Regions from separate parts of the Homo sapiens genome. Here region 2 is linked to region 1. Evidence: fine-mapped expression QTL. A gene starts in region 1. The other region holds a variant in brackets. All regions are shown on one strand. Distances are between the middles of the regions.

The links. PIP is the estimated chance that this variant, and not a neighbour inherited with it, causes the effect. A credible set is the group of variants that fine-mapping cannot tell apart.
Region 2: its variant is the best candidate, but not a certain one, in a credible set for the expression of KLF3 in whole blood (TOPMed, PIP 0.50).

The regions. Positions count from the first base shown.
Region 1 is chr4:38,658,012-38,673,897 of GRCh38, reverse strand. It overlaps KLF3 (KLF transcription factor 3), which reads right to left and starts at 9,699. Exons shown (of 6, transcript NM_016531.6): 1 at 9,437-9,699. It overlaps KLF3-AS1 (KLF3 antisense RNA 1), which reads left to right and starts at 9,005. Exons shown (of 16, transcript NR_171644.1): 1 at 9,005-9,104. RefSeq lists enhancers at 452-755, 6,536-6,585, 5,775-6,624, 6,625-7,475, 11,510-11,831 and 2 more, silencers at 8,959-9,308, 9,369-9,968, 9,979-10,248, 10,279-10,798 and a promoter at 9,437-10,239.
Region 2 is chr4:38,676,986-38,692,871 of GRCh38, reverse strand. KLF3 (KLF transcription factor 3) reads right to left here. Exons shown (of 6, transcript NM_016531.6): 2 at 12,190-12,285; 3 at 3,801-4,287; 4 at 2,993-3,143. The coding sequence starts at 12,246. Among named protein-coding and RNA genes, the nearest start is that of KLF3-AS1, 20 kb to the right of the region's middle. RefSeq lists cis regulatory regions at 4,656, 5,574 and enhancers at 4,572-4,741, 5,490-5,659. The variant T/C (reference allele first, on the strand shown) is at 5,910.

The DNA.
Region 1 (15,886 bases):
CACCCATCTGCTCCACCCTATGGAGAGTTGCCAAGGCAAGTCCAACTTGTCCAAACAGGACATGGCTTCAGATAAGATTCTGCCCACACCCTGTACTTCGGAAAGACCAAGTGAAGCAATTGATTTTGCATGTCAATAAGGACAGGTGCAAAGGTAACAACCAAGCAGAAGCCTGACAAGTTTCCAAACTGAGGCCTAGCAAAGCAGGGCTGGGGGCGGGGACACCCACACCTATGCTACCCTCTAAGTTCAAGGCCATCTGGCTAGTGGCATTCCACACCCTTCTTAGAGAAACTGCAGCAAACTCGAATCATTTTCCCTACTAGGGTTACACACTTGTTTATGCTCTCTGACAATTTTGTGTTTTAGTTTTAAGGGCAGGCAACCCAAGATAAATTGAAAAATACCCATAATGTCTAATCCTGCTGTGTACATATCTCACAAGGCCTCGCCTAAGCCCTCACAATTCTCCTCTATGAAGTGTTATATAATCAAATCCAGAAGGGCTGCGTGAGGCCACACTGCCTCTCATCTGCCTCTGCTCAGTGCCCTCCCTATCACTGGAGACCCACCCAACTCCACCCTAAGGAGCCTCCACCCATGGGGCCCCACCCTGCAGGGAGTGGGAGGTTGGGAGGGACCAGTTGGCGCTGGGCAGCAGCCAGTTCCTGGAAATTCCGGCCTGAACAGGGATGGTTAGAATCTTAAAAATAACCAGAAGGAACCATGGGGCTGTGATCATTCCTCTGCTCCTGAGGATTCTCCACTGAAGTTCCTCCCAGAGAGCCACTGAAACTTTGGATACAAAACCATGAGCGAAGCCTACCCTCTCCCTTTAAAAATAAGCAGAAAAGAAAGAGAAAAGCATTTTGAACCACTGCTATCAACGTGGCCCAAACCAACCCTACCCCTCCTTGTTCCTGCCTCTAAGGCTGCCCCCTCCCCGCCTCCCATTGGCCTTATTTTCTGGTCCTTCACCATGGAAACCTAGAGGCCATCTCTGAAGCCTTCCTCACCTCCTTTGCTCTCCCCTCCTGCCTTGGGGGCCAGGCCCTCAGCGCCTCCCACCTGCATTGCTGCAGCTTTTCCACCACTGGTCTCCCTCAGCCTCTCCAGTCCAGCCCTCACCCCTTGCCACCCACGTTTTTCACAGATCTCTTCTCATCCCATCCTTCTCCAGCTCACAACCTTCCCTCCCGTGCACTCCCCGGGTCTGACAGTGGGCTCAGGCACCCATGCTTGGCACCCCGTTACCCACGAGCTGCCCCCTGCTCCAACAAGTGCCCTTCATGCCGGCTGCCCTGCCCACCCCCAGGCCTTTGTTCATTTTTGGCCCTGATGCTGGGCAACCGGCAATGGAATGCCCCCTCCCCTTCCGGCTTATCTAAATCCCCCTAATTCTTCAAAGACCAGCTCAAGGCCCTCCCCACTCTGTGCAGCCAGCTGATTGCTCCCTGGGGGATCCAAGGCCGCCTCTTCTTACCTAGATAGTCTAGGCCTCTTAGCTTTCCCAGTGGTGCGTCCCACACCGCCACCAGTACTGGGAAGGACAGACAGGCAGGCCTCAGCCTTCCTGAGAGGGCTCCCTCCCCACTCCCCACAGGAGATCGGGCTTGTTCCCTGAATGAAGTTTTTATGTCAAGCCTAAGGAGCTAACATAAGAGCACTTAGCTTATAGTAGGAGTTCCACAATCATCTCCCTTTCCCTCTGAATGCACTTGAAATCTCCCTTAAACAAGTAATAGGGATGAAGGGCCTAACTCTAAGGGAGACCTAGTAAACCAAACTTCCTAAGGAAAAGTTATTGCCCCTAACCTTAGCCTGGCCCATCATGTGTACTCCAGAGACCTTATTAGTACCATCTTCAAATAATTTATTATTATCCACTCAGTGAGGTCTTCTAAACAAGTCTAGTGTCGAGGTCTCTACTGTACTTTAAAATCTAAAATAGAAAAAAGAAAGCGAGAAAGGGAGGAGAGGAGGCAGGTGGGGGGGAACTGCAAGGGGAAGGGGTGTGTGCACAAACACAGGTTTTTGAAAAGGGATCAAGGAAGGCAAGGGGCTAAGTGATGTCACAGGTTTCCTGCCAATCACCACCACCTTCGTGATTGGCAATCCCCAGGCGCTGTTTAATGTCAATGAGGTGGTTACTACCTTCCCGTTTTACTGAAAAGAACACTGAAACAGAGAGGTCAAGTAACCTGCCTAACATCACACAGCTGCTAACTCGTAGAGCCAGGACTTGAACCCAAGGTAGTCTGACTTAAGACTGGTGGCCTTGGCACACCACTCTTCCACCTCCCCAGGCAGAGGACAACATTACACCACCAACAGTAAGTACATGATAGTGATTTCTGTGAACAGGTTGGTCCCCGGAGAAGACAGAACGTGGGGACAGTCTGTTTACATTAGTGACAGTTTCCACTCCTTCCAACTGGCCCCTGCTGCCCACCCTGTCTCAGTACGCACACTTGGATGCAAGATCAAAAGACACATTCTGAAGGCCCCAAATTAGGCAATTATTCTTCCTAGCCAGTGCACCTGCATTGTCGATATAACTGCTGAGAAAAATTGGCAGCTTGACCCAAGTAAATACGGAAATCCTCATAATAACTGCACAAAGGTGGAAGGGTCAGGTCCTCATCCCCATTTTAGAAATGAGGAAATGGAGGAACAGAGGTGAAATGACTCGCCCAATTTCACAGAGCTGGTTGGAGCTGCAGCCAGGAACAGAAGCGTGTCTGCCTGCAGACCCGGGCACTTTCTGTTCTGCTTCAGAGCCTGTGCTGTGGGACCGACTTTTAGGTAAAATCGCCTAATGCTGGGGTCTTTCCCCAGTAGGGAGGGTGTGGGTGTGCACAGCCACACTGGCCCATGGGAAGCAGTGCCAGGGGGAGGTTCCAGCAGGCAATTAAGATTTCAAAATGCCTTTTCAGGTTAGATCACTGTAGATCTACTCCATCCTATGGCATAACTCAGAGTAATGATTGCACATAATTTGAGATTAGCTCTAATAAGTAGGTACTCAATAAATACTTGTGAGATGAATAAATGAATGGATGTCAAACTACACTTCTCACATGCTAGGATAAATTAAGGGCAAGGGCCCTGGAATGATGGTACACCAGGTGTCCTACATGGAAACTCTGTCCAGCGGCTGGTGAAGCCAGCCTGAAACCTCATCTTCTAAAATGCAAAGTAAATGTGAAAACTTTGGGAGCCTGGGAGAGAAAAACTCCCTGGTTTGGAAACTCAGCGGAACAGGAACTCGATCTTACAAATGAAAGAGGCTTTGGAGTGTGAAGCTTTGGAAGGTACCAGGGATGCAAAGTACAGGAACAGATAAAGGAGTGGATTTCAGTGATTACACTTAAACAACAGTGGTAGTAGAAAGAACAGCATATAGGCCAGAGAAAAAACCCCACACTTGATTTGCAGGTCGCTCTCCAGGGCAGAATCCGCTGACCTCAATACTCATTTGATCTCTTATGTCCAGATTTGGCCAAACTCCACTGATTTGGGTTGAGACTAGCTCTGGGCCATCCCTGGCAGGATCCACAAGCCTTCCAGAGACTGGCAACCATCCTGAGGATGTCCCAGACTAAGCAGGGCAATTCTGGGTCCTCCTGCAAAGGGTCTGCCTCAGGGAGCGCCCCCTTACAGGAAACAGGGTAAGAGCCAGACCCAGGGGTTACATGAAATGCATGGGCTAGAGGGCCACTTAACTTGCTCTCTTCTGTCTCCAGCCCTTCTAAATAATTAGATGGAGAAATGATAATGAATTCAGCCTGCCGACACAATGGAGTGAGTTTCAAAAACCTCCAGGAGCCTGTTTTGCTAAAGAAACAATTTTACTACAAACTCTCTGGCCAACGGATACAAAATGCACAGATCATTTTTTTATTTTCTTACTGTTCCAGAGAATATGGTCACATTCATTACAGAATAAGGACAAGGCCAGTTAAGAGGACATCTTTTTTTTTTTTTTTTTTTTTTTTTTTTTTGAGACAGAGTCTCACTCTTGTTGCCCAGGCTGCAGTGCAGTGGCACAATCTCGGCTCACTGCAACCTCCACCTCCCAGGTTCAGGCAATTCTCCTGCCTCAGCCTCCTGAGTAGCTGGGATTACAGGCGCCCACCACCACGCCCGGATAATTTTTGTACTTTTAGTAAAGATGGGGTTTTGCCATGTTGGCTAGGCTGGTCTCGAACTCCTGACCTCAGGTGATCCACCCACTTCGGCCTCCCAAAGTGCTGAAATTACAGGTGTGAGCCACCGCGCCCGGCCGAGGACACTATTTTTTTGCTTTGGAAGAAATGAATCCTAGTTTTGGTTCAGAAACTGTCAACAGCATTGTGCCTCTTCTATGACTACTAAATTTCAAGCAAAGAGAGCTGAGTTGGGGGTAAAAGCAGGGCTATTCCCCGCCTTCAGACAATGCTGTCCCTTATCAGGGCAGACTGCTGTCTGGTTTCCTGTCTCCAGCTCGGGCATGACTGCTTAAGATGAGAAACATGGTCTAAGAAAGGAACAGAGTGGTCTTGAAAATGAGAATGCTAGCGACCACCATAACCCTCTTCCAACTCACTCCCAAGAGGAATTCTGACTAGAATATCACATACTAGCAAACTAGATATCAATTGTTTTAAGATTCTAGGGATTTGCTTTTTTAAAAAGCTAGAACCAATGATAAATGATGCACTTCAGAAAGAATCCAAGTTCCAGAATAATGTAATTGTAATTCCTAGTACCTTAAAGAATGAGGTTGTGTGTATTTTATTTTTCTTAAACTCAACTGGGTGTGAAAACAGAGAACAAGAAATGCTGCCTAAGAAATCTGTCGTTTTATAGCAAAAATGTTGATTTGAAAATATTAAGAAGGCAAGTATCTCAAGGGGCGATGGAGACACAATGAAATTAAATTAGGAATCATGATTTATATGGTTAAGAAATTAAAACTCTTGTTCCCATCTTTCTGGTAATCATAGCAACTATAAGATAGGATAATTTTCCCCAACTATTCAGCTTAGCATTTAGAAGCTTGCAGAATTTTTTTCTGATAGAATATATTAGACCCTAATTATCTCTATTAACCACTTCATCTCCCTGCAAAAGAGAGAAGAAAGAATTTGGGGAAAGCCAAATAAAGACTCTGTTTACCAAACCTAGTTAGATTGTTAACAACTTTGGAACCAAAACAAACAAAAAAACCTGCTTCGATTGGAGTTACTTATGAATTTTAAGCTTAAAAGTCTCTTGTCCTACAGGTCAGCTAAGTATTTCCAGCTGCTTTTCCCAAAGGAGAAAGAAGTTATTGGGACTTCTAAAACTCCCAGCTTTTTTCATAGAAGGTTATCAGTAGCCAACTATTTGATACTAATAACTCTCTTAATATCATATTTTATATTTTCCATTTATACATAAAGAATGTGGTGGAATGTGACATTTAAAACGCACCATTATCATCAATTTTGGGGAGAAGAGAGCCTGATTTGCTGCTTCAGCAACTCTTTAAATTAATTCCACAGAGATGCTGTAGATGATTCCTTTTGATTAAAAAAAAAAAATCCCCAAGTAAGTTTACAAAAGCACTTTCCAAAACTTTTCTTTTTCAAGCAAATATTTCCTTAAATCTTAGTTTCTCAAGAACCAACAGAAAACTAATATTAAGGCAGGTCTTAAATAGTTATCCTAGAAATTCATTAACCCACAACTGATAGAATATTTTTAAAAAATGAAAAATATTATTGTAAAACAAAAATGAGAAGAGCATTCTTCTTGTTTTCAAAATAGAAGATTAAAATTTTCCAAACAATCTAGCATTAAATGAATTTGTTAATGCCAGTTCTCCTTTGAGCTTTTTAATTCTTAAAAACGGGTTGGAAATGAGGTGTAGAATATTGCACAGTGAAATCTTTGTCCTTAAAACATTATCCTGATATTTAAATCTTTGTCCTTAAAAAGAAATAATCCCGGGATTTTCTCAATGTCTTAGGCTTTGCTTCAATGATTTTTCTAAAGATTTCTCCTTCCAAACATAAGCAAGACTTAAACTAAAGCCAGGCTGCCAACATTGCTTAAATTCTCCATCCACGGAAGCCACCTGGAGCAGCCTGGGTTAAACGTGAACGAGGGTGGGCCACATCTTTCAGATAATGCTAGGTCTTCTAAACTGTAAGGTGTTAATCCTGATCCAAAATTGACAGCTTCAGGGCAAAATGCCTATCTTAAAACAAACGCCCTAACCACTTCAACACAAGAATTACAAACAAATACAAACAAAACTCCTTTAGGTTTCTTTGCCAGGATGGACCCACGTTTCCCCAAATCACAATCTAGCAATAAAAAATTTAAAAAGGTAAAAGCATTTATTCACCCAGACAAATGCAGTGGAGCAAAGGGTGTACGTAAAAAGGTTAACTGACTTCTCATTATGACATAACACAGGCGTCTTAAGCAATATCAAGTGTGTAGAGACATGATAACTCCATGGGTGGGGATACGGAGTTTAGGGGCAGGGACCTCAGCCTGGTCTGGGCTACTGATCTACCAGAAAACAGCCTGAAACAGGAAAGAGCACACATATGCCACTTGGAATGTATGACGCAAACCCCAGCCTTGAAACAAAGAACAGGAAACAGCTCTGCTGGCTGTGCTGGAGAGAAAGCACAGAGAAACATTTAGCCGGCCCTCCCTGACCCTATATTCATGAGCAGCTGGAGTTTTTTAAGACAACAACAGGGGGGTGGAGGTGTTTGTTCTACGGGTGTGAATAATAACACCAGCTTTATACAGGGGACCTGCCCTATTTACAAATAAGAGCTGCCACATACAGTAAACATCATAAGTGAAATGTGATTTTATCATATTCAAGCAGCAGAGACCTTCCTAATGAACACTAGCCTCCCTCCTGATTTCTTTTGTCCCTTTCTGCCCCATTCCAATGGCTAGTCCCTAGCTCAGATCAAATTCCGAGTTAGGGTAATGATTATGGTTCAGCCTCAGTGCATCAAGAGGAAAAAAGATAGAGCACTGCTGTTAGGAATTCAGATTACAATTGGGGTACCCCACAGAACCAAAATTGGAGCAACTGTAAGCCTCCTTTAGTCACAGAACTAAATTCCAAGACAGACTGTGGGACATCTACAGTAACCCAAAATTTTCACTGTCTTTTTCAAATGCAGTTATACACATCTTTGCAGAGCTGCTCATCTGTTCAACATATACACACGTTTATAGAAATTCGCCTTTTAAGAATGTGATTCTGTTCCTGACATTTATCTAAAAATTATTATGCAATCTGTACACCAGAGTACTAATTTCTAGAAGTCATTCTAAAATGTCTATTTTCCCTTTGGGTTATTTTTAAGATAGTAAAATCCATTCACAGTTCCTTTCCCATTATTTCTCTTTACTTTGTTAGCCAGGACTGTTTAACTCAAGCTTACGTTATCAGAGATTTAAGAATGTGGTGTGTGCAGACTAAGTACAGGTAAGGAAAAAAAAAAAGAAAAAAAAAGGAAAAAAAGAGCATCACTGTGCCCATAGCAACAAGAAGATTGGGTTTTAATTTAGAAACTTTGCAGTGAATAAAACAATAGCTTTCTGCAAAACTCTGTTGTCGTTTTGTACCTGACAAGGTTTTGTGGTCTAAGCAGTTACTTTTCTTTGTTATTCCCATGTTGAGATTTTTGTACTTGCATTCCCTTTCATGCAAGCTAAATGTTCTTTACAATGTATCATCATTGAACTTACCGATAGTACATTAGGTTTTTTTCTTCTAATAAATAGTTCTGCAGCAAAGCCCACTGACTGCAGAAATGAAGATACCAGTTTCTCTAGGGAGTTTAATTTAATCGAACATCTAATTTCAGGTTTCTATTAACAGCCTAAGGTCAACTAACATACCTCTTTTCAAACCAGAAGAAATCACTCGTGGACACTTTCCTTAAACACTATTACTAACTCCAAAAAATTTGTAGATATTAATGCTAGCAGATTGTTTTTTCCCCTAAAAGCAAGTCTTCTTCCCTAGGGTGAGGCAGATCATCCAGATGAATTTCTCTTATAAAAATGCTCCTCAAATTCGTACAGAAAAGGATAGCACAAAACTGCTGTGTGGAAAAACCTATAATGAACAACTGGCCTATTCCCCACTTGATTTTGCTGGCACATTTCAGGTACTTGTCAGAATACCACTTCATACTTTTTCCCATATACCAGACTCTTGTGAGAATATAATCAATATATTTAAAATGTCTTGGGTGATATTAATGGAAACATAAATTCTGAGTAAGAAATTCAGTGGTTAAGTGTAAAATGTTTATTTTAGTGAAATACAAGAAGGTGAGCAATTTCCAATTTCCGTTTAACTTGACTTATTAAAAATAAGTCTCATTCACATTCTTCTAGTATTATTGTATACTGCTATAAAATTTAAACCAGAAAAGTGCTTCTCCTTGTCAGTAGCTATCTGCCCAAAAAAATGAATATGACAATTCCAGATCTCATCTGCCATCTCTAAGAAAGCCACTTGGAAATGTTAGGTAGGTCCCATGGGTCCTGATCCAGGGATCTGTCCCTGGGTCCCCATCAGGCTCGGCTGCAGGCAGTTGCCTAAGGCGTCTTCCGCCTTCAGCCACGCTGCAATCCTTGCTCCAGGCACTGCGGCAGGTTCTCTCCATGCCCCCAGGAAGACTCTCCAAACCCGACCAGCTCATTTCTCCTGCCCCGGAGGATCCAGACGCCCTGGCAGCTCCTGGGCTCCAGAACCGAGAATGGGATGCTGCCTCCAATCCCAATTGCCCTAAGTTTCTTTCCAGAGGGCCGGGAGACTGCTCCAAGTTTGCTGTGGCGGGCGAGCGGCCGCGCGCCGTGTCCTGGGAGGGGGGCGGCGGGGGGCGCGGGCGGAGGGAGGGGAGGGGAAGGACGCGGGAGCCTGGGTTGTGGTGGTGGTGGGGGGGCACCGGGAGGGGGAGGAGCAGGAGCGCGCGGCCGCGGCGCTACCTTTCTCCAAACAACGTTGCCACACGCGGAGAGCACGGAGATTTCTGGGGCTTTGGAGGGAATCGTGAGCGGGCGGGAGGAGGCCGGGGACCACACAGGTGAGCCCCCGCCCGCGCCCTGCCCGGGACGGCGGCGGGCGCTGCCAGCCCCGCTCCCCCGCACCCGGGGTCCGCACGGTGCCTCGCCTCAACCCCTCACTTTTCACCGCGAACCCGTGACCCCCTCCTCCTTGCTTGCTCTCCGCCCCCACCCCGGCTAAGTGTAGCCGCCACACTTTCCCAAGCCCGCAGGCGCCCCCCCCAACACCAGCGCTGCACCCCCGACCCATTCCCCGCGGCCCCCTCCAGGAGAAAAAATGAAACCAGACTGGCCGAGGAGGGGGGCGGCAGGGACCAGGGTGCGGAGCAGAGGTGAGGGAGACGGGACTTACTTTGCGAGGCGCGGTGCAGGGCGCCGCCGACGAGAAATAAAGGCCCCGATACGGGCTGCCTGGAGCCCCCCGAGCGCAGCAATGTCAGGGCTCCAGTCCGGGCGGCGTTGGCGGCCGCAGGGGACGGGGACGGGCGCGCGTGCGGCGGGCGCTCTCGCTGCGCTCCGGCTCGGGCCCCGGCTCCGCGCGGCTCCGCTCCTGGCTCCCCTCTGGCTCCTGGCACCAACTCCGGGCAGTCACATGACGCCGGCGCCGCTCGCTCTGCGAGCCTCCCGGGGCTGGCGGGGTAAGTAGAGGCTGGGACCCGGGGTGGGAGGGTCAGGGAGGGGAGAGGGAGCCGCCGCGGCCGCCCGGGCTGGGCGGGTCCCCACCCACTTGGGTGGAGGCAGCCGCCGGAGGGGTCGGCCGAGTCACTCGCGCAAACACGCACCCCGCCCTGCGCCCTTCCCCCGCCACCCCCGCCTCCCGCGCCGCCTCCGCCCCGCCCCGCCCAGTCACCCGGGGACGGCCTGACAGACACTCATTATTCCCCGGAGCCGGGCGCCGCCCCGCCGGCCCAACCTGTCCCACGAGGCGCGGCGCGGCCGTGGGGCTGGGCGTGCGCGGCGCGGCCTCCGCCCCCCGCCCGCGTCCCCGCCCGCGTCCCCTCCCCGCGCCCTCCTCCCCGGAGTCCGCGCCCCGCCAGCCCTCCCGCCCGGCCCAGCCGCCGCGCCGCCGCCCGAGCCCGGGGGGAAGGAAGGGCGGCGCTGCCCGCTCCGGGCGTCACACGGCTGCGGCCCGCTGCGCTGCTTCCAAAACACACAGCCGGGCTCGCGGGCGAGCCGAGGCGGGGGGCGCGGGCTGCCAGGGCCATCGATCAGCCGGCTCCAGCGGGAAGGGCGGCCCCGGGCGCGGCGGGAAGGGCTGGGCCCCGCGGCCGGCGCGGCGCGGCGCGGCCCCTCCTCGGCTGAGCGCACTCAGCTCACTGCAAGAGAAAAGCCGAGCCGAGGCGGCCGCGGTGCAGGAGCGAGTGGGCCGGGCGGGTTCGGGAGGGGAAGAGCGGCCGCTGGGGCGCGCCGAGCCTCCCTGGCCCCGAGTCGCCGGGGTCAGGGGACACCCTGTAGGCGCGCTCTTTCTTTGTGCCCTGGGGCGACGGGTCCCCCTGGCCGGCGGCCCAGGCGGCGCCCCCCACCTCGTGGGACTTTTCTTTGAAGGCCCGGAGACCCCTGGGGCAAAACTCCCACGGGCCAGGCCTGCCGCTGGAGCTAAAAAGCGGCATTTGCGCAGTTGGGCTTGCCTGGAAACTTGGCAAACTTTGGTCGGATCCTCCCCTGCAGAGCGAGGGCCTGGCCTGGCGACCCCCTCATTTCAAGTCGCTTCTAGGGACCTAGCGCCCTAAGCTCAGTGGCCTTCAGGGTGCTGCGAGCGAGCGGGGCGGCACAAAAGCGCGTTCGGTCCAAGCCAGGCCCCTTCGAGGACTTTGTGTAGATTGGTACCTAAGTTTAATGCCTTTTGAGTTTCTTTTTAAACAGTATTAATGTAATAATTAATGTAATAAAAAGAACAAAGGACGAATTCGTTCGATTGTTTTAAGTTCTGTGTAATGTTTAAAACCGCCCCTGCTTCAGTGTATGGCTTATTATTGCTTCAAGATGTTTTAAAGGCCCTTTAAGTTGACCCATCTCGCTTTGATGCTTCATCCAGACATCGTGCTGCTTAAAACGGAGTGATAATAGTATATTTCGAGCCGCTTCATGTAGCTACACAGTATTGTAAAATTAGTACTCGGTAACCTCAAGTAGTGAAATCGCATATTTTAAATAACGCAAGTCCAGGAAAGGCCACGTGGAGGATACCCAGAACCGACGCCGGCTCATGGGACGTCGTGCTGTCCCATAAGCTTCATCTTTAAAATGTAAAGGGTGTGAGTTTTTTTTTTCTTCATAATGAATAAAAGACATTCCAGAAAAAAAAAGAGTTGGATTCGTGTCAATTACTAATTGCCATTTATTGATCACTGACATCATTAAATGGCTGATTGGCTGCCTTAAGGTTTGCATTAGCGGAACACCGTGCTAGGAATGGCTGGTGAAACTGGCTCATAGTAGGTGCTCAAAAAAGTACGTTTTTTTCTCCAGGGACACAGTGACGAGAACTTGAAGCACATAAACCATGTTTTTTACCTTGTTCATGTGGGTGTGGACGCAAAGGGGAAGAGCGAAATAGGCCTGTCGGAGAAAAGTGTGACCCAAGATAAGAAGGGAGTGGTTTTGATATGGAAGGGGCAGGCGGCAAAGGAGAAGAAAAGCCATTTTAAACAGTTAATTAGTGAACACTGTGTTCGGTGCCCTGTGGGAAGCTGCTCAAATGCAACTTGTCGGAAATGAATCTATCTAGTGCTGGGTAGCTCAGTGAAGGACACCATCATTCTTCAAAGTGCCCAACAGGGTGGGGCGCGGTCGCTCACGCCTGTAATCCCAGCACTTTGGGAGGCCGAGTTGGGTGGATCACTTGAGGCCAGGAGTTCGAGACCAGTCTGGCCAAGTTGGCGAAACATCGTCTCTACGGAAATTACAAAAATTAGGCATGGCGGCGCACGCCTGTAATCCTAGCTATGTAGGGAGGCTGAGACAGGGTGATTGCTTGAATTCAAGAGGTGGAGGTTGTAGTGAGCTGAGATCATGTCACCACTGAACAGAGTGAGACTCTGTCAAAAAAAAAAAAAAAACCAAAACAAAACAAAAAAAAAACAAAACCCCAACAGAAGCACCTAAGCCTTTCTTCTCGCTAGCAGGGCATAGCCCATGTTTCACTGAGTCCTGGACCTCCTTGGTCACTACCCACTCTCTGGCCACTATGCTGGCCCAGCCTGTTGCCACCATGTCTTGTTGGTCATCCTGTCATCCTGTTTGTAGTATGGGCTGAAGCATGAAAAAGGCATTGGAGCACGGGAGTAAGAGTGCCCTTTCCAAAATGCAAGCCTGATCGTGTCAGTCCCTTCAATGGCTTCCCATAGGATGAAGTCCTAAGCTTTCCACCCCTGCTGGCCTGGCCTCTGCCTGTCATTACAGACACTTCTTCCTCTTCTCTCTTCCTACTCTTTTCCAGCAACGCTGAACTTCTTTCCGTTCCTTTCTTCCAACTCTCTCTTCCCACCTCTGGCCCTTTGCACATGCTCATTTTTCTAGGTAGAAAAGCCTTGTCTTCTCAACCTGACCTCTACTCCCATTTCCCTAAATTCTATACATCGTTTCAGTCTTGACTTAAATGACATTTTCTCCAAATATGTATTCTCTCACTGCACCTTTGGACAAGTTGAGGTGCTCTGGTAACATCTAGTGGGGCGTGATGGGAGATGTTTGGGTCATGGGAGTGGATCCTCCTATTTCCCCTCTTGTAACACTTTCCGTTCTTGTAGTTGGCTATTTAATGATCTCTCTGTGGCACTAGACTGGAAACTCTATGAGGGCAGGGACCTTGTCTTTTCAGCAAAAATGTATTCCCAGGGCCCAGATGTTCAATGAATATTTGTCAAAGGAATAAATGTGGTTTATGAGTTGCGAGGAGGGAGGAGTCATTCTGAGCTGAAGAGGTGAGTGGGGGCTATAGGGAGGCAAGTGGCAGTGAACTATACCTCCATCAGTCCAGGGGCTTTGAAATGGTGAAGAGGAGGGAAGAGGGAGTTACCCCCCCTGAGTGCTTTTAAGCAACAGAGTGAGATAGTAAAAGCGATGCCTGGGTCTTTTTAAAATTCCTAACACTAGCACAGTGCCTGGAACATGGTCAGGTGTTCAGTAAATCCTACATGACAATCTCAAGTGTGATCTTTGTGGTAGCTGCTTTGCGCTTTTTCCTTGCTGACAGCAGGCCAGTCTGGTTTAGGTGTGGGAAGCCTATCCTCAGTGGAGGATACCCATGCCTGGTCCCAGCAGAGGAACCCTGGTTACTCCCAGCCAATCCCAGTGTCTTTTGCCAGTGACTGGTTGGAGGGTAGGTATGCAACCTAGTTCTAGCAAGTGGGACATGAAGGGAAGTGTGCTGGGGTTTTTTTCCTGATACAAGGAAATCCCCAGACCTGCTTTGGAAGCTGTTAGGTGAGGATGTGATGCTTGAAGCTGTAGTAGCCATCTTGTATTCGTGAGAGAAAGCCAACGTTTCCGTTTCCATGTGGATAGTTTTTTTTTTTTTCAAGTCATTCTGTTTTCAGCTCAAATGTTGCCTCCTCAGGAATGACTTCCTTGACCACACAATTTAAAACATACCCCCCTTCCTCTTTGCTATGGTTCAGATATTTGTCCTTTCCAAATCTCGTGTCAAAATTTGATCCTCAGCGTTGGAGATGGGGCCTGATGGGAGGTGTTCGGGTCATGGGAGTGGATCCTTCATGGATAGATGAACACTCTCCCTGAGGATGGGGAATAAGTGAACACTTCCTATGTTAGTTTCGGAGAAAGCTGATTCTTGAAAAGAGCCTGGGCTAGGCCTGGTGGCTCACGCCTGTAATCTCAGCACTTTGGGAGGCCGAGGTGGGCAGATCACCTGAGGTTAGGAGTTTGAGACCAGCCTGGCCAGCGTGATGAAACCCCATCTCTACTACAAATACAAAAAAAGATAGAAGCCAGGTGTGGTGGTGGGCGCCTGTAATCCCAGCTACTTGGGAGGCTGAGGCAGAAGAATCGATTGAACCTGGGAGGCGGAGGTTGCAGTGAGCTGAGACTGCACTGTTGCACTTCTGCCTGGGCAACAAGGGCAAAACTCTGTCTCAAAAAAAAAACAACCGAGCCTGGCACTTCCCTCCTGGCTCTCTTGTTTCTCTCTTGCCCTGTGATCTCTGCACACACTGGCTCCCCTTCACCTTCTGCCATGCAAGGAAGGAGCCTTCCAACCAGCAGAACAGTGAGCCAAATAAATGTGTTTTCTTTATAAGTTACCCAGCCTCAGGTGTTTCCTTTACAGCAACACGAAATGGACTAATATGCCCATTCATTGTTTAGTCATTGTCCTATTTTCTTTTCTTTTTTTGTATATCGTTAACTAAAAACCCCCTTTCTTTTTTTGTTTATTTGCTACCTTTTTTTCTTATTAGGATGTGAGCTCTGTGAGAGCAGGGACATTGTTTTATTCACTTTTTCTCAAGCTTCTAGAACAGTGTCTGACAAATAGAAGTAGAAGGTGTTCCATAAGTATTTGTTAATTAATGTATGACAGCTAAGCTACCCCAGGACAATAACACCATGTTGAAATGGATTCAGGGGCTAGTGGACACAAGCCACTGCAAACCTCCACTTTCTCTTTTGTGACTTACATCACAGTATATCCCATCTCAGGCAGTCTCTTCCTGCTACACAAATACATTTTCTTGAGATTTCTTATTTCTTTTCCAATCTACTTTAGAGCTTTTCTATTTCTTCCCAGGGCATTTCTCCTCCTCGTGTGATGACAGACAAAGCTACCAAGGCAGAAAAGTGTCATGTGCTTGTGAATTTACGAGCAGCACAGATACATTTACCTTAAAGGAAAACAAAGCTATATGATTTGAAGTAAAATTAGAAATGCTAGTCTAAGAATTATCCATCTCTAAAACATTACAAAAGGTGTGGAGATTCTCTGCATCATCTCTGCAAGTTTCCACCTTTATTATCTATCCATCCATCTAATTTAGAATTGCCAGGAAATACCGAGGTTGAGTTAGGTGACCATGAGTTCTGGTGAAGATCAGACTGGATGTATGATCCACTCCCACCTCCAGAAGCTCTCAGCATTTCTAGTGCAGGTGGACAGTTGTCTTGGATTGTGTTTGGCAGGACAGTGCAATCCAAGGACAGTGGCACAGTGGAAATGTTGGTTCTTGGGACCTAACTCAGAGAGGTAAAACAGAATAAGGCTGTAGAGAAATAGCCAAGGGATTGGTGAACTGGACATTCCAAATAGGTTGAAGAATGGGTGTCTTGGGAATAATGGAGTGAGTGACCTGGAAGGTTAGGAGGTGAGTTGTCAGAGAATGGGGACCTACCTGTAAGTTTAGTATTTAGAGGTGAAGCAGTCCTAGGGGATGGTGCGGTCCAGGGAGTGCCTGCGGAAGTGGGAGAACTAGAAGGGAGTGGAGAAGATCCCTGAAGATGAAGAGATGAGTGAAAAGAGTGACTGGGGTGTTAAACATGGTTCCTTGTGGATCCTGAAATTACTCAGAGCTATGGGCAGAGTAAGACTTAGGCCCTCAAGTCATGTCTTAATTCCATTAAAAAAAAAAAAAAATGTCTGAGAAACATGGAAGATAGCCACCAGGAGAGAATGGTTAGAAGATATCCTTTTTCTATAGTTAAATCTGCTTTCCTTGAATCATGATTATTCAAATTAAAAATAATCACTTGGGCTGGGTGTGGTGGCTCACACCTGTAATCCCAGCACTTTGAGAGGCTGAGGCAGACAGATCATCTGAGGTCAGGAGTTTGAGACCAACCTGGCCAACAT
Region 2 (15,886 bases), 19 kb before region 1:
GCTGGGGTAGAAATTTAATTATTAACTATAAAACTTTTATATGTCTTTGGGATACTGGGAGACTATCTTTTTCAGATAACTTTAGAAATCTCTCCCAATTATTGGATTTTATGGGTTGGGAATCTAATCGTTTCTGTGCAGTAATTCTGACTGCCCTTTCCAGTTGTTTATTTTACACATAAAGGTGCACCGAAAGGCTGTGGGCTCCAGTTACAAATCCAGCTCTGTCACTGACAGTCTCTGTGATCCTGGGCCAAGATCTCGCCCTCTCTGTGTCTTAGTTTCCTCTCTGTAAACTGGGGATGATAATAATGTTATCTCAGAAGGTTATATCTCGGAACAATGTCTGTTCCCAAGATAAAGCTATAAATGGTAGCCATGAATATTTTCAGGTTCAAAATAGTCTATTTGTAACTTTGTACCCTATGGTTGTTTAATTTCATGAGTTTTTTGAGGATGTCCCCAAACCAGGATATCTCTGCTTGAGCTGTGTCCCTCAAACATTCTGAGCACAGTTAACCTGCCGCATCTCTGAAGACGCTGATGTTGGTTCAGGCCAAGGCTAGATGAAGAGTCTTGGGATCTCACACTTTTTGGTCTCCACTCCCATTTTCAAAGAGATGGTTTGGGATTATTATAACCAAGAAGTTACAGAGCTAATACATATAAGATATCTTGTCCACTGTTTTGAGCTGAGACAGCCCCTCTTAAGTTTGCTATAATTCGCATACACAACTCAATAGGGAAATCTGATCCTTATGCTTTTTGTTCTAAATATAGTTTTGTATATTTAGAACAAAGAAATCTTTTTGTAAATCTGTAACAAATAGAATTTGATGTACCTTTGAGTGCCTTTATAAATAATCCTAAAGTTGCCACACCACAATCGAGCAAATGGATTTCAAAGCTGTACTTTTAAGTCTGCCTCTGGAAAGGAAGCGTTTCTTAAGGCAAATATTATTGGGGCTGCCTCACTGCAGTGGTACTGGGTGCCTAGTTTCAAGTGATTCTTTCCTGGCTAGCTGGTTTCCTACGTGGGCTGCTACTGGGCATACTCCAAGACGTTACTTAATCACATCTGTGAGAACATTACTTAAAGAGTACATGTCCCAGCTGTGGCTAATCTGTTGCGTTTTTTTGAGAAGCAGAATGTATTCTTAGGTCAGCATTAAAATAAGCATATTACTCATTAATCATTAAAAGCCACTGAGCTTGAGATCATCAAAAGAATATTACTTAAAATAAAAGTATTTTCTTTTGAGCAGCATTCAGAGCACAGAATATTGCCTTCAAATCTTCTTATGTAATGTTTTACGTTGCAACTCATAATAACCCAGACTTTGGAATAACACTTGTCCAGTCAACGGATCCCTCCCTTGGAGGCAGTTGGTTTTATTTAGTTTTATAGCATCTCTTTCATCACCCATGCAGGAACAACTATAAGTGCAGGCCACGTTGCTAGTTACCTTGCCAGAAACATCCCTCAACATAAAAAAAGAGTTAATTCCACCTCTAAGATGTGTCCATTTTGCCTAGTCATTTTTTCCTTTCACTTGAGTGCATGAGCAGATGCAATGGGTTGGATATGACAAGATGGCAGGAAAAGCCCTGATTCGGAAGCAGGAGATCAAGCCCAAGGCCCCTCAGTTGTTAGCAGGGTGAATATTGGCGAGTTATCTAATGTCTCAGGTAATCACTTTGCCTTTTGCTCCGACTCCCACAGGCTTGTTGTGGAGGAATAAAATAATTCCTTTGAAAACACCTGGGAAGGTTTTTTTTGAGGTAAGAGGGCACTATGCAATTGTGAGGAATAATGAAATATAACTCCATCAGAGACTCTCTCCCTACCTGCTGATGAAGTCGGCTAAGAGTTATTCTCTTCTTCATCTATTGGGGAGCATATGACAACCCAAACCAAAAATGACTATGATTGGGTGCAGTGGACAATTAATCCATGAGCTACTATGAAGGTACCTACCCAAGCTGAATGTGGATACAACTAGGATATATTTGAAGTTACCATAAAATAGTTATTCTAAAATCAGAGAATTCACATTCTGCTGTAGAGTTAATTGTGAGAGGGAGCGGGGTACAGGGGGTAGAGAAAATAAAGGAGAAAGGTGGGTAGAACATTTATTCAAGTTGGAGGAAAATGATGCAGGAGGACAATGGAAGGGACCCTGTGGAGGTAATCGTTGCCTTCGTACTAGGAAGCTGGCTGCTGAATCCAATGCTGAAGCACCATAACACAAGACAATCACAACTACAATCAATAATGAAAACAGAAATGGGGCAGCAAGATTAAGTGACTAGTCCAAGATCATACATATGGCAGAGAGCAGAGGTGGGATCCTTGTTGGACCCGAAAACCATCTTCTTAGCAACTACAAACCCAGCCTTCAGTGTAATCACTGGTGGAGGTCAAGGTTATCTACAGCAGGATCCCACAAATGAGGTTACTGAAGCTGTGTGTGGCAACTACCACATTATACCATGTTAGACCTACAAGAAACCACCATTCAGGTGCTTGGATGCTGACCAACACTGCACAGCCTTCCTACTGGATAGCAATTCTACAGGATACTATACACTCTGTAAGGACTATGTGTGTCCACATGAAAACTTTACATGATCCACAGAACACCAAGTTTAATCTATACAAGGATTCTCATAATGGAAAAACTAAGTATACATAGCCTGGAAGAATGGAAAAAAAACAAAAATAATTCATGTGGTAAGGTGCAAAATCATGGATGACTGATTCCATGAAAACTTGATGTAACTTTTGTCATAACGTTGTCAGTGTAACAGCATATTGTTTTTGGAGAGATTCTCCCATCTTGACCAGTGGTACTGGACCAGTGGCGGCCACAGATCACAAGCCGTTCCTGGTCATCCACACCACATCACACGTGTGAAATCTTGTGCTTCTGCTCCAGGTTCCAAGATGCACACTACTATGCAAATGCTGGGTAGACCTAAATATACTTACTCTTGCAACAATGCTTGCGGGGGGGACACTGAGTTCATTAAGGGGGGTGACATTTCTTCAGGATAATAATCTGTCCTCTGTGGTTCGATCCCAGGTTCTATTTTAATTTTTTTCTGTGATATAGGCTTCTCATATGATTCAATTACAGGTACTAAAAAATAAAAATAGAAAAGTCACTTCACGTACAGTTTACCAATTTCAGCTTTTAAAAGCTTACTGCATAGCTCCTACCTACAACACAGATATGACAGGTTTATTTGCCTTTGGCAGACTATAGCAGGAACAAATCTGTGGGAGATTCTCACCTCTCCTGACCATTATTTTGCCAGTAAGCAGCAAATATAGGGACCTAGATTATAAGACACCAGCCCTGAAATGATTCGTTCTTATAATTCTGGATTATTTCCTTTCAACCCCTTAGTCCTCTATGACCAGCTGATAAACAAGGTAGCTTTTGATCACCATTAGTTTTCACCACAATCAAAAAGGATTTATTAAATGCCTTTTGTACCTAGAACCATGTTGGTATTCAAGAAAGCAACATAAAGTCAAGATTCTTTCTATCCCCAAGTTGACCATTACATAGTGAAAGTAATCATGTCATGGTATCAAACAGACAGCCTGATTCTTGGGATCTCTTCCAGTATCAACACTTTGGGGGGGCGGGGGAAGGAAATGCCTTAGGCAGATGAGTATTTCCTTTGAAGAGTTCAACAGCTCTTGCCCCCATGCTTCCTCACCCACCCCATCTGGTGAAGCGCCAGTACGCTAAGCAAGTGCAGCAGCATGGAGCAGTGGCGGAATTTACCTTGCATGCTACTACTGGAATTTTCCATCTCCTCCGATAAGGAGACCATGAGAGGCTGCTGGAGGTGACTTGTGTACATAAAGGGGACGGGCTGCACCACCACCGGCTGGATGACGGGCAGGATCCCCGGGCTCCGTATTCCATGCCGCGAGAGGGCAGCTGCCATCACTGGTGGCATGGACAGCGGCACGCCGAAGGGCTGCACGCCTGGAGAAGGGGGTGAGTATTTTTTTATCGGTGGGCTGGAAGAAGGCATGCTCAACCCAGGCGAGGCTCTCCGGTGTGAGGACGGGAACTTCAGAGAGGAGGGCGAATTCCCAGCCGAAGGGGGTGAACTCCGCTTGTTCACCGTGAGGTCCACTGGCTCCATCTGTATTCCGTGCGACAGACCTTCTGGGGTCTGAAAGAACTTCTCAGGCAATGGTGTGGAGTAGATGACCCCATACTTGTTAGGCTTCATGGATTCCATGTAATTAGATGGGTATGACTATTAGAAAAGAAAAGGAAAACGTGTCAACAGCCAAATAAGTCCATTTACTTGAAACATGAATTAAGAAAAATATGCTAACAAGGCACTTAACAATTACATGGGCTTTACAAAATAGTTTAGATTTCGATATATATGTGACCTTAAAAAAATGCTCAAAGAGGTGGTCTCAACATTAAAAATGCTATGAGAGGCGGTCTCAAAAATATTAAAACTAAGATCAATGTGGTCACTACTGCAGATGAAAAATCTGAAATTTAATCCTAAGATGATTCCTGTGTCAAACATTAAGGCCGATACCTGGCAAAATTCTAAGACAGGTGATAGCACAGGCTTGGGGGCCATTATCATTAGGAGTCAGAGGTGGGCATCACAAGAACCAGTCAAGCCAAACCAACCTGGTTGCTTTTCTGGTGGGGTTTCTTGATGAGCAGGAAATGCTCTCTAGCTTTGATGTCTAACTTCGGCAGGACAGCTCTTTCTCAGGATAAGTAGTGTCTTCAACTTCAGCAGGACATTGATTTCTCATCATACTTGTGTATAATAAGCAAGAATGGGGCTGCAGGATAGGCAGTACCTTTCATTTGATGGGCTTCAGCAGCTGTACAATCCATGCCTAGGACTGGCCAACAATCCTAGTCAGCGTGGAACTGTGCTAGTTTCAGCACTGAAAGTCCCACATCCCATGAAACTCTACAGTCTCAGGCAAACCAGGAGGGGGTCAGTCACCATACACACCTTTGTACTGAAGGCCACCCTCACTGCGGCAATGATGTCCCTGGCCCTAACTTGCTCAGTGTTCTTATTCAGAATCTGAATGAAGCTGTAGACTTGAATGGCAAGTCTGTGGATGACACGGAACTATAAGAAACAGCTAACGTGATATGACTCACATAAGGAAATGTGGAGCTCAAAGTCATTCACACAAGCTGAGGCCCTGTGTTCTCTCCTCTATACCCTGCTACCCACTCATCAAATGAGGCTGGGGCACAAACAAGGGAGTGCAGAAGAGACAGAAGAGTCTGTTTCCTTCCCAAGATCTGGTCCACAACTGACCTCATTTATCTTCAAACACCTTTCTCTCTTTAAATATCAGGATAACCTAACTTTCATCTGCCAGCTTTAAATACAAACCAGTCATCATAATTTCACACAATGGGCACTATCCTTGACCATGGAGTTCACCTAAATTACTTCTATTCCTTAACTAACATTTTGTTGTAAATTTTCTTTGTAGAATGCAACCTAATTTTTAATTTAAAAAAATTAAACTCAACATAAACCATCATCTTTACTAGGCATTTTAGGGAAACTGAAATTTTGCATGTCAAGCCTGCTTACCTGCAGAAAATTCTTTGTACTTGAATGTCTGACAGTGACAGTGATAAACAACATATTGTGCTTCTCTTCCAGCTCTAAAACCCTATGTGTTTAAGAGTTAGAGGCAATACTAACTTGGGATGCAACCAAGAAAACCCAATGGTGCCTTGTAATTAAACAGCGTAAATGCACTATTAATTTCTGGGTCTCCTTGGCCCCTCTGGTGGCCACTATTGTGAGTTATGACTGTGGGGCAGCAGTGGTTTTGATAGGGATTCCTACTGAGATCACCCTCTTTCCTC[T/C]CTGGGCTTGGTCTGGGCGAATCCTCGGCTGGTTATGCATTGGAATCATCTGTGTTGTTTTTAAAATTCCAGATGCCCAGTCCCTGCTCCAGGCCTGCAGAGCAGCCTGTTAGGGAGGAGTCAGTCAGTGAAACTTTATCACATAACTGTGTTTATCTTTATCTGGTTTGGATGTCAGGTCCTCATGGTTAAGATCAAGGTTATGGGATAACCTACACAACGAGCTTATACACATGCCATCCTGGAAATCCCTTCTTGTCCCTGCTTATACAAGAGATGCTCACTGTCACGGGCTCTACTGCTCCCAACCAGAGTTTCTCAAACTTTACTGTGCACATCCATCTCCCTGGAGCACTCGTTAAAATGCAAATTTTGAATTACCGGGGAGTGGACCAAGGGAACTTAGGCTACCTTTTGAATAGCAATGCTCTAAATGACAGAGATAAAAAATAAAGATACTAAAGGTCTATTTAAAGGAGGGAAAAAGAATTTTCTTTTCTTTTTTTTTTTTTTTTTTTTGAGATAGGGTCTCACTGTTACTCAGGCTGGAGTGCAGTGGTATGATCATAGCTCACTGCAGCCTCGACCTCCTGGGCTCATATGATTCTCCCAACTCAGCCTCCAGAGGAAGTGGAACTACAGGCACATGACACCACGCCTCGCTAATTTTTGTATTTTTTTGTAGAGACTGGGTTTTGTCATGTTGTCCAGGCTGGTCTCGTACTCTTGGGCTCAAGTGATCTGCCTGCCTCAACCTCCCAAAGTTCTAGGATTACAGACATGAGCCACCACGCGCAGCCAGTTTTCACTACTAATACTGCTTAAAAACAAGAACATGAAGGATATAAAATCAGAAAACACAAAATGCATAAAAACAGCTTTGAGTTATAGATCAAGGATCAAATGAAGAAAAGATTCTCTACCTTTCTTTAAAGCCAGGCACGCACAGTACCAACGCAAGAGATCCAAAAGATAGCAACATTAAGTATTAAATAGATTTAAATTTAAATATTAAGATGGGTATTATTAAAAGAGGCACAAGGTTCATTAACAACACAACAAAATAAATCCATTATAAATCATGTACACTGGAGGGTTTCAGGGAGTAATTAAATATAGGAAGGAGAATGATTTCGCCTAGTCCTAAAGTCTAATGTGCTTTATATAATTCTCCAAAGGGCAATGGTTCTGGTACTAGGAAAAAACTTTAGGAAATGGGAGGCAGCATTGTTTCTATTGACGAAAATGTAGCTTCTCCCTTATTTTCAGCCCTGTTCTTCCAAGACCTCCCTATGACCTAGATTTTAATGCCAATAGTTATTGGCAGCTAAATGGGAAGCAAAATGAGGACACAGTTTTATTGCTGTCATTGCTGGATTTTTCTATGCATGGGGTGAGTTTTGGGAGAGTAGGAATTTAGAACCTCCAGATTTGCAAATCTAATAATATTCTCAGGTTTCTCAAGCCATTAAGACAGAAAAAGCCACACATAAAGCTAAGCTTTATCAACATTATGCAGTTTGCTGATAAGTCTGTTCTCAAATGAATGCCCTCATTCCCTCTATTGGATGTGCGATTATTGTAAGGTACAAGACTAACTGTGGGGAGAGACACATTTGGACACAGACACCCAACTCTGGGCAGATAATTAACTGTTTCCAGCCCAACTGCCTCACAAAAGGGTGAAGACATGTGGTCCCTCAAGCTGGTTCACTTTATTTGGGTGGCACACACAAGCTTTTGCAATCAGCTTCCAACAATCTGGTGCCGTGTAGGGACTGACACGGCAGGGTGTGTGCTCTGGGCAGGTACAACCTGGTAACAGTCTTCCCCGCTCTGTTCCAGACAGTTCCTATGTTCTATCAAAGCAATGCATACAAGCACGGCTGTACTGGCCCCATATCCAAATCAGAGACAAATGTTGATGAAGCAAAAAATGTGCCTCTGGCCACGGATGGACCTCCAGTGCCCTCTGTGCATGCTGCTTAGTCCAAGAGACCCTGTGTCCTGGAACAGAGCAGTCCAAAGACAAGACACAGACATGGGTCTTTCCCGCTTCTGCCTCTGGCCCCCACTAGGGATCTTAAGGGCTTAAAACAATGGGCTGGGCCAGGCATGGTGGCTCACACTTTTAACTCCAGCACTTGGAGAGGCTGAGGCAGGAGGATATCTTAAGGCCGAGAGTTTGAGACCAGCCTGGGCAACATAATGAGATCCTGTCTCTACAGAAAAAAACAAAAATGTAGCGGGGCATGGTGGTGCTTGCTTGTAGTCCCAGCTACTGGGGAGGCTGAGGGAGGAGGATTGCTTGAACCCAGGCGTTTGAGGTTGCAGTGATCTTGCTACTGCATTCCAGCCTGGGCAACAGGGCAATACCTTGTCTCAAAACCAAAACCAAACCAAAAAAAAAAAAAAAAAAAACACAAAAAACCAAAACAAAAAAACCTCCACAAAACCACTGATCTGCTATAAGAGTTATTTCCGTCTGTAACATGTACTCAGATGTTCACACCCCTGCACAGTGTGCATTTACTTATTGACTGCTGCTTCTCACTGCACTGTGAGGTGATGAGGGCCTGCAATAGGTGCTCAATTAATACTTGATGAATGTGTAGTAAATTGACACACTCTCTTAGCAGGTTTTTATTACTGATAAGGTGAAGAATAATATACTAATTATTTTGAACTTTGAAAAAATGATTTTAATTGCAACAGGGAAAGAGGTACCATGTTTGGATAATTTCCCAAAGCTCTATCACTTTATGCTAAGGTGATAATTGCAATAGTTTCTCATTTTATGAGGAATAGTTTTGGCGAGCTTTCCATTATAAGACAGTTTCAGTGGACGGAATGACGGAAACATGGATGAAATCTCTATTTCACTATTCCTCAACATGAAAAAAAGTGAATGTCCATTACAGGTCAAGTCAAAAGAATCTTCATCCAAGAGAGGGTTCCAGGCACAGGAAGGCATGGTGCGTGTATAAACACACACTCTGGGAAGAGCAAATGGCATGCACCCCCATGCAAACAGAGGTAGAAAGCTCTCTTTCCACCAGGCTTGAAAAAGCCATGAAAAGTTTCTGTTAGAAAAGAGCAGAGGAAATTACTGATGTGACATACTTTCCTATCTATAAGGAGTCTGTTAGATGACTGAAGATAACAGAATATTATTAATCCTTTCTTCAAAAGTAATCTTTCCACAGGAATAGAAGAATACTTTTAAAGTTTGTTTTTTGATTTGTTTTGTTTTTTTACAATTTGTTTCCTTGCTCACTTCCTGAATTAAATCCTTTAATTTTCAATCTTTTGGGAAATGGTAAAAAAAAAAATTTATGTACATGCGCATTTTTTTACACACAGTTTCATATTTTATAATTTTTTCAAAAAAAAAAAACAGAAGCTCGGGGAGCTGCTGGTGATTTTGCCAACACTGGGTGGATGTAAGTAGCAGAGACTGAAGGCACAGACTTGGGGAGGGAGAGTCTCCTCTGTTCCTCATTCTAGCAAATTTTAACAGGGTGACCCCAAGCCTCAAAGCACAAGGCTAGTGGAGAACAGTATGAGGGCTTATATTTGATTAAGAGGGAAATGACATGTCCTCACTTTCTCTAACCTATAGCAAAAGCACAAACAAGCGATTGTTTCTGCTGTGCTATCCTTTTAGGGGGTGGGAAGAGGGGGAGAAATAAGTTACCATAAAATATTTTTATTCATCTATAGAAATTAAAAATACTTTTACAAATGTCCTATTGTGCCTTAATGTTTACAACGTTGACTTGAATAGCGAAAGACTTTTACCTTCAGATCAAAGACTGAATTAAAAAGAAAAAGGAATAATAAATTAGGTTCAATATACTTCACCTATGAAGGCAGGAAAGACGAAATTTGAACACTTAAGAGTGGAAACAAAAGCTTTTTAATTTGTTTAAGTAAAATCATTTTAACACCCCACTGCTCAAATGTTTCTGTTAACTGAGGTTGCACTGAATTAAGAAAAAAATACTTCCTGCTGAAGAAAGTTAAAACCAAAAAAAGAAAAAGAAAAAAAAACACCTTCATTTTAAAGGACTGACAGTAACTTTTGGTGAAACTAAATTCTAAAAGTGTCAGCTGCAGTTGAAATCTAGCACATGAAGGAGAAAAAGACCATTAACTGCAAAATCAGTTCTACATATTTTAACTTCATGTATTACTACGTTACAACAATACAAGTTTAACAGTTACTTCAAATTCATTTTATTCCACATTTTTTTTTTCGGTTAAGTGCATTTCCTTGCACTTAATTATATATATCACACCAATTTAGCAATGTGGATCTTCATTTTAGCTTTATATTAGACTCTTGAGCCTTATGTTCATGCTTGATTAAAAGCACTGGAGGTACATTGAACAGTAAAATGCCTCACTGATGGCTCTGCACCAATTGTAAAATGAATCATATTCTCCAGTGCTAAAAACCTATTCCTATTTCAAGAATATAACTAATGGGGAAATTTTATACCTTCATTTTCCTCTAACGTGATCATGTAGTGATGCCGGGGAGGGGGATTTGATGAATACAATGACAGCACTGAATAACATTCGAAGTAATTTAGTTTTTTGGCCAGGAGCGGTGGCTCATGCCTGTAATCCCAGCACTTTGGGAGGCTGAGGTGGGTGGATTATCTGAGGTCAGGAGTTCAAGACCAGCCTGGCCAACATGGTGAAACCTGGCCTATACTGAAAATACAAAAATTAGCCGGGCGTGGTGGCATGCGCCTGTAATCCCAGCTACTATGGTGGCTGAGGCAGGAGAATCACTTGAACCTGGGAGGCGGAGGTTGCAGTGAGCTGAGGTCACACCACTGCACTCCCGCCTAGGCGACAGAGTGAGACTCCATCTCAAAAAGTAATTTAGTTTTTTGATTAATAAAATCCTTATTGCTCAGTTGCTACCATATTCAGACACTTGGTTATTCAGTTATCATGCTGGAATGTAAATGTTATTTCCTTAAAGCCCCTCTGACTTAACTTGCATTATAGATACTGGTAAACACTTTACTGGCTTAGTAATATCCATGGCAACTCAGCTCCAAGGGCCTCGGCGTGACCCCCGTGTCTTGTATAAACATTTTTGGCAGGAACCTCCAGAGCCCATGCACAAGGATGATCTAATTTTGCAAGCGTGTCATTACCAACCTTCAGATACACACCTCGGGCCAAGTTTTCCCCCTTGTGAATATTTTCCAAGCCCGTGGAAGAAAAGAGCAAGACAGAGTGGGAGCATTGCCTTGTTATTCAATATTCACTCAACCAGAATCCTCAAGTTGAAACCACTCCCTGCTCTGAAGTCAGACACCTTCCTCTGTCACCATGTCTCACCTTCATGGCACTGGTGTTGTACCTGCAGAAACCCCAGACTCCTCACTAGTCCCTGGCGGCCTAAAAGCAGCCAGTGGCCTGGCTCCCATGAGGGGCTGGCTTAGCGCTAAGGTGCTGAAAAGGACAATGAACGTAATTCCTACCCAGCCAGACTCTTCCAAGTAAACGAGATTCCGTCCTCACTGCCAAGTCTTTCTCTCGCTGGCTTCCCTCAGTCATCTCATATAGTTACAGCTCCATATGGCTGTTGTCATTGGTTTTTAAGCAAATCATCCTATTCTTAATATATTTTTACACACAAAAGGGCTGAGGAATTTTTGTAAACTTACTTCTGTCATGAGAGGATTCACCTGTGGCCTAAGTTCTATGCTGATCATATCTTAGGGGGACACCGGGCACGGGTCTTAAGGAAGCGCAGATCCCATTTAAAGGATCCACAGCTGCTAGGACAGTATTTAGCTCACTCATACCTGGTGGCGTTGAGAAAAGTTTGCCTATGAAATGCCTGTCAAGCAATGAGTGATTTTTTTTTTTTTTTTGAGACGGACTTTCGCTCTTGTTGCCCAGGCTGGAGTGCAATGGTGCGATCTCTGCTATCTCGGCTCACTGTAACCTACATCTCCCGGGTTCAAGCGACTCTCCTGCCTCAGCCTCCCGAGTAGCTGGGATTACAGGCATGTGCCACCACGCCCGGCTAATTTGGTATTTTTAGTAGAGACGGGGTTTCTTCATGTTGGTCAGGCTGGTCTCAAACTCCCGACCTCAGGTGATCCTCCCGCCTCGGTCTCCCAAAGTGCTGGGATTACAGGCGTGAGCCACCACGCCCGGCCATGATTTCAAGGAATAATTCAACACACAATAATGTTATCATCACTTGGAAAAAATAAGGCGAGGTGTTCAATCTTGGAAAACTTACCACTGAGACAGGGTCCATGGCCTCTTGCTTGACAGGAACTGGGTCAAACATGAGCATTCTTTTAGTTAAACCTTCTAGGGTGCTCTGGTGTTTGGCCTAGAAAACAAAACAAGGTATCCATCTAAGTCTCAAGGTTACTTTAAATACAAACTAGTAAAAATAAAATATAGCCTGGGCAAGGTGGCTCACCCCTGTAATCCCAGCACTTTGAGAGGCTGAGGCAGACGGATCGCCTGAGGTCAGGAGTTCAAGACCAGCCTGGCCAACATGGTGAAACCCCGTCTCCACTAAAAATGCAAAAATTAGCTGGGCGTGATGGCACTCGTCTATAATCCCAGCTACTCGGAAGGCTGAGGCAGGAGAATCGCTTGAACCCAGGAGGCGGAGGTTGCAGTGAGCCGAAATGGCACCGCTGCACTCCAGCCTGGGTGATGGAGCGAGGCACTACCTCAAAAAAAAAACATAAATAAATAAATAATAAAATGAAATATAATACCTCACCCCACTTCTCTACTCCTTTTTCTCCCCTACCCCTGGAATGGCTGGAATTTGTTTCCCTTACCTATGAAAGATGCCATTTACATAATTAAAACCAGACTCCATGGTCATAACCAGATGAGAGCCAACCAGCATTTCTAACTCAATACAGAAACCCTGACTTTTCTGGAACACTATGTACAGCCCCTTCTGAGCGCCAAAGCTTGCTTGGGATTGCCGTGCAACTCTTTAGGGGTTCAGATTACATATGACCGTTAAACACCTTCCCTTTTCCCCGATGTTGGTCGCAGAAAAATTAGGGGAAAAAAAGACGAGCAAAAAGAAAACCTAGAACCAACCATCATTAAAATTTCATTTTTATTCTAACAAACCCTCTTTAAAACTGGGCTCATAGTGTACATGGTATTTAGTACCTATCATTTCACTGAACAATTTATGTGAAAATGTTTCTTTTACAGTAAGTATGGTTCTGCACCAAGTATGGTTCTGCACCATCAAATCCCCCGTGCCACTGTGTGAACACATCAGTTTACTTAACTTCTTCCTCTTTATTAGGCACTTAGGGTTGCTTCTAAGTTTTCGCCATTACGAACAGCAATGAGCCTCTTTAAATATATCCTCCTGCACACCATTAATTTTTAGGATAAGTTTTCTGTAGGGGAATTCCTGGGTGAGAAGTATATACATTTCCCAAAGCGCCTGATGCCATCACCTGGCAAAGACGAACTATTATTTTCATTAATAAAATACAACCTGTTTCCCCAAACCTCCACCAGCAACATGTGTTATCACTTGTGTTATAAAAGATAAACACCTTGCCAACTTGTTAAGTCTCAAGATGGCAAATGATTTTTATTCTAAATTGATTTGGTTATTGAAGTTATTTTTTTTCAGCTCTATTGACCATTTGGATTTCTTCTTTTGAGAAATGCCTACTTAGGGCTTGACAGCCTCCACCACTTCTTATTGTTTTCTAAGCACTTTTCACATATGAAGAATATTAGCTTGTTTTCACTCAGATTTCTCCTCATTAGGAAATGAGCCTATTGTAAAGGAAATGTCCACCTTGATCCTGTCCTGTCTTTTTCTTCTGTTGTTCTCTGCTTGCCATCCCTTCTATTTTCTTCTGTGTTCTGTACAGTCCACTTCTAACACTAATCTACATCAAGCCAACTGCTTCTTCACAGGACAAAATATTCAGTCTGCTCAATGTTCAAATGTGTCTCCTCAGTTACAGAAACACTGTCCTGCTACTAGACACACTTTCAGAAATCGACTTCAGGCACTCATTAGCCAAATTTGGTTTAAGTGCTCAGTGCTTTGGTTAGAGGTAAGGTCTTCATAGATCACCCTGGTTTGAGTGGCAAAGTGAACAAGTTCTAGAGTGAGTTCCAGCTGAAGAAGCTGCAGGAATCCCGGGTTCTGGATTCCTTCTTGTATTTCAGTGTTAAAAACCCCCATCCCCACCTCCATGATAGCAATCCTATAATTTGTTGTGTTGGTGCTCTACGGGTTATACTAAGATATCTTCATATACAATGATGGAAGTGATACTATGTCGTTCTTGTGCTTCGTTGATTCATTGAAGAAAGCCTGTTTTGAATCTCATGACAACACACGAATTTCATCAATAACTCGACATAAGGCCTTGACTTCAAAATTATATTTTCCTCCATCACAGGGTGTATTGTAATCTGCAAACACAATTTGATACCAAGCTGCTCAAATCAATAGTGCTACTACCCTCTTATGTATTCCAGCAAGAACTAACCGCAACAGCCAGTGAAAAATAGATGATTTCGTAATGAGGGATGAAAACGCTTTTGTGTCTTGGGATCTATTATTAAGCAGTTCCCAGACTAGCAGCTGTACGGATGAACATGGTTCTAAGAATTGTTGTCCAGTGCCTCACAGTGGACCATAAACAAAAGATGTGAGATCTCCTGCTTACATCAATGAGGTCAGATCATTTAGCAGCCCTGACTCACGGCTGGTCACCCTGTGGCAGCCTCCCACCTCCTCACCCCCAGCTTTTTACACTGAATTCACTCTTCCAGACTCATCTATCCCACTAGAGAGTATCTTGATGCAAATGCTTCTAAATTAAAGCATTCACATTCTCAGGTGTATAAGGAAGGAGCCATGGTTTTGAGACTCAAGCAGGCTGCAAACTAACGCAGCCATGGGGCAAGAGTGATCATTTGTAAAATGCAGAGCATGGCTCCCTATCTGCTTCTCAAGGATTTAGGTCTATCAAGTGAGATTAAAACACACACACACACACACACACACACACACACACACACTCCTTTTGCCCTCATTTATATCCATATGCACATAAAATCTGGATGTATATTCTGTACACACAACACTAAATGTGTTGGTTCCAACTTCCGGAGCAAAAATGTCTGGCGTTTGCCTCTTTGCTAACATACACTAGCCTTAGAGGTCTATCCCCCACCCTTAAATAAAACTCTGACTAGATTCAGTTTCAAAGTTAACAGCTGCCTACATCCTGTATGAGGTCTCATATAAGGCCTTGTCACTTCACAACTGTACCACTGCAACAACAGCTTCTGAGCGAGGCCAGCATCTCCCCACTTCATGTCATCCTGCACGCTTTACGACCACTAATTGCAGCACAGCAGAATAAATTAAGATGATGGGCTCTGGAGTTCCTTTTCGTTCAAATTCTAAGTCTACCATTTAGCTCACATAGCTTTCAATGACTTTGTCTAATGCCCACAGCAACGACTACTGAATCCTTTTAGAAATGAATTACACATTAATGTGCTACATCTTTTTATCATTAAGACATTATTTAAATCACTATTGTTCTTTAATTTTTTGTTTTATCTAAGTTTAAGGAAATGCAAGACTTGTAATCCTAAGAGAAACATAGTCTAGTATAAAACGCTGGCACTGACTGGGCGTGGTGGCTCATGCCTGTAATTCCAGCACTTTGGGAGGCCGAGGCGGGTGGATCACTGAGGATAGGAGATTGAGACCAGCCTTGCCGACGTGGTGAAACCCCGTTTCTACTAAACATACAACAAATTAGCCAGGTGTGGTGGCGCACACCTGCAATCCCAGCTATTCGGGAGGCTGAGGCAGTATAATCGCTTGAACCCAGCAGGCGGAGGTTGCAGTGAGCCCAAATAGCACCACTGCACTCAGCTTGGGCAACAAAAGCGAAACT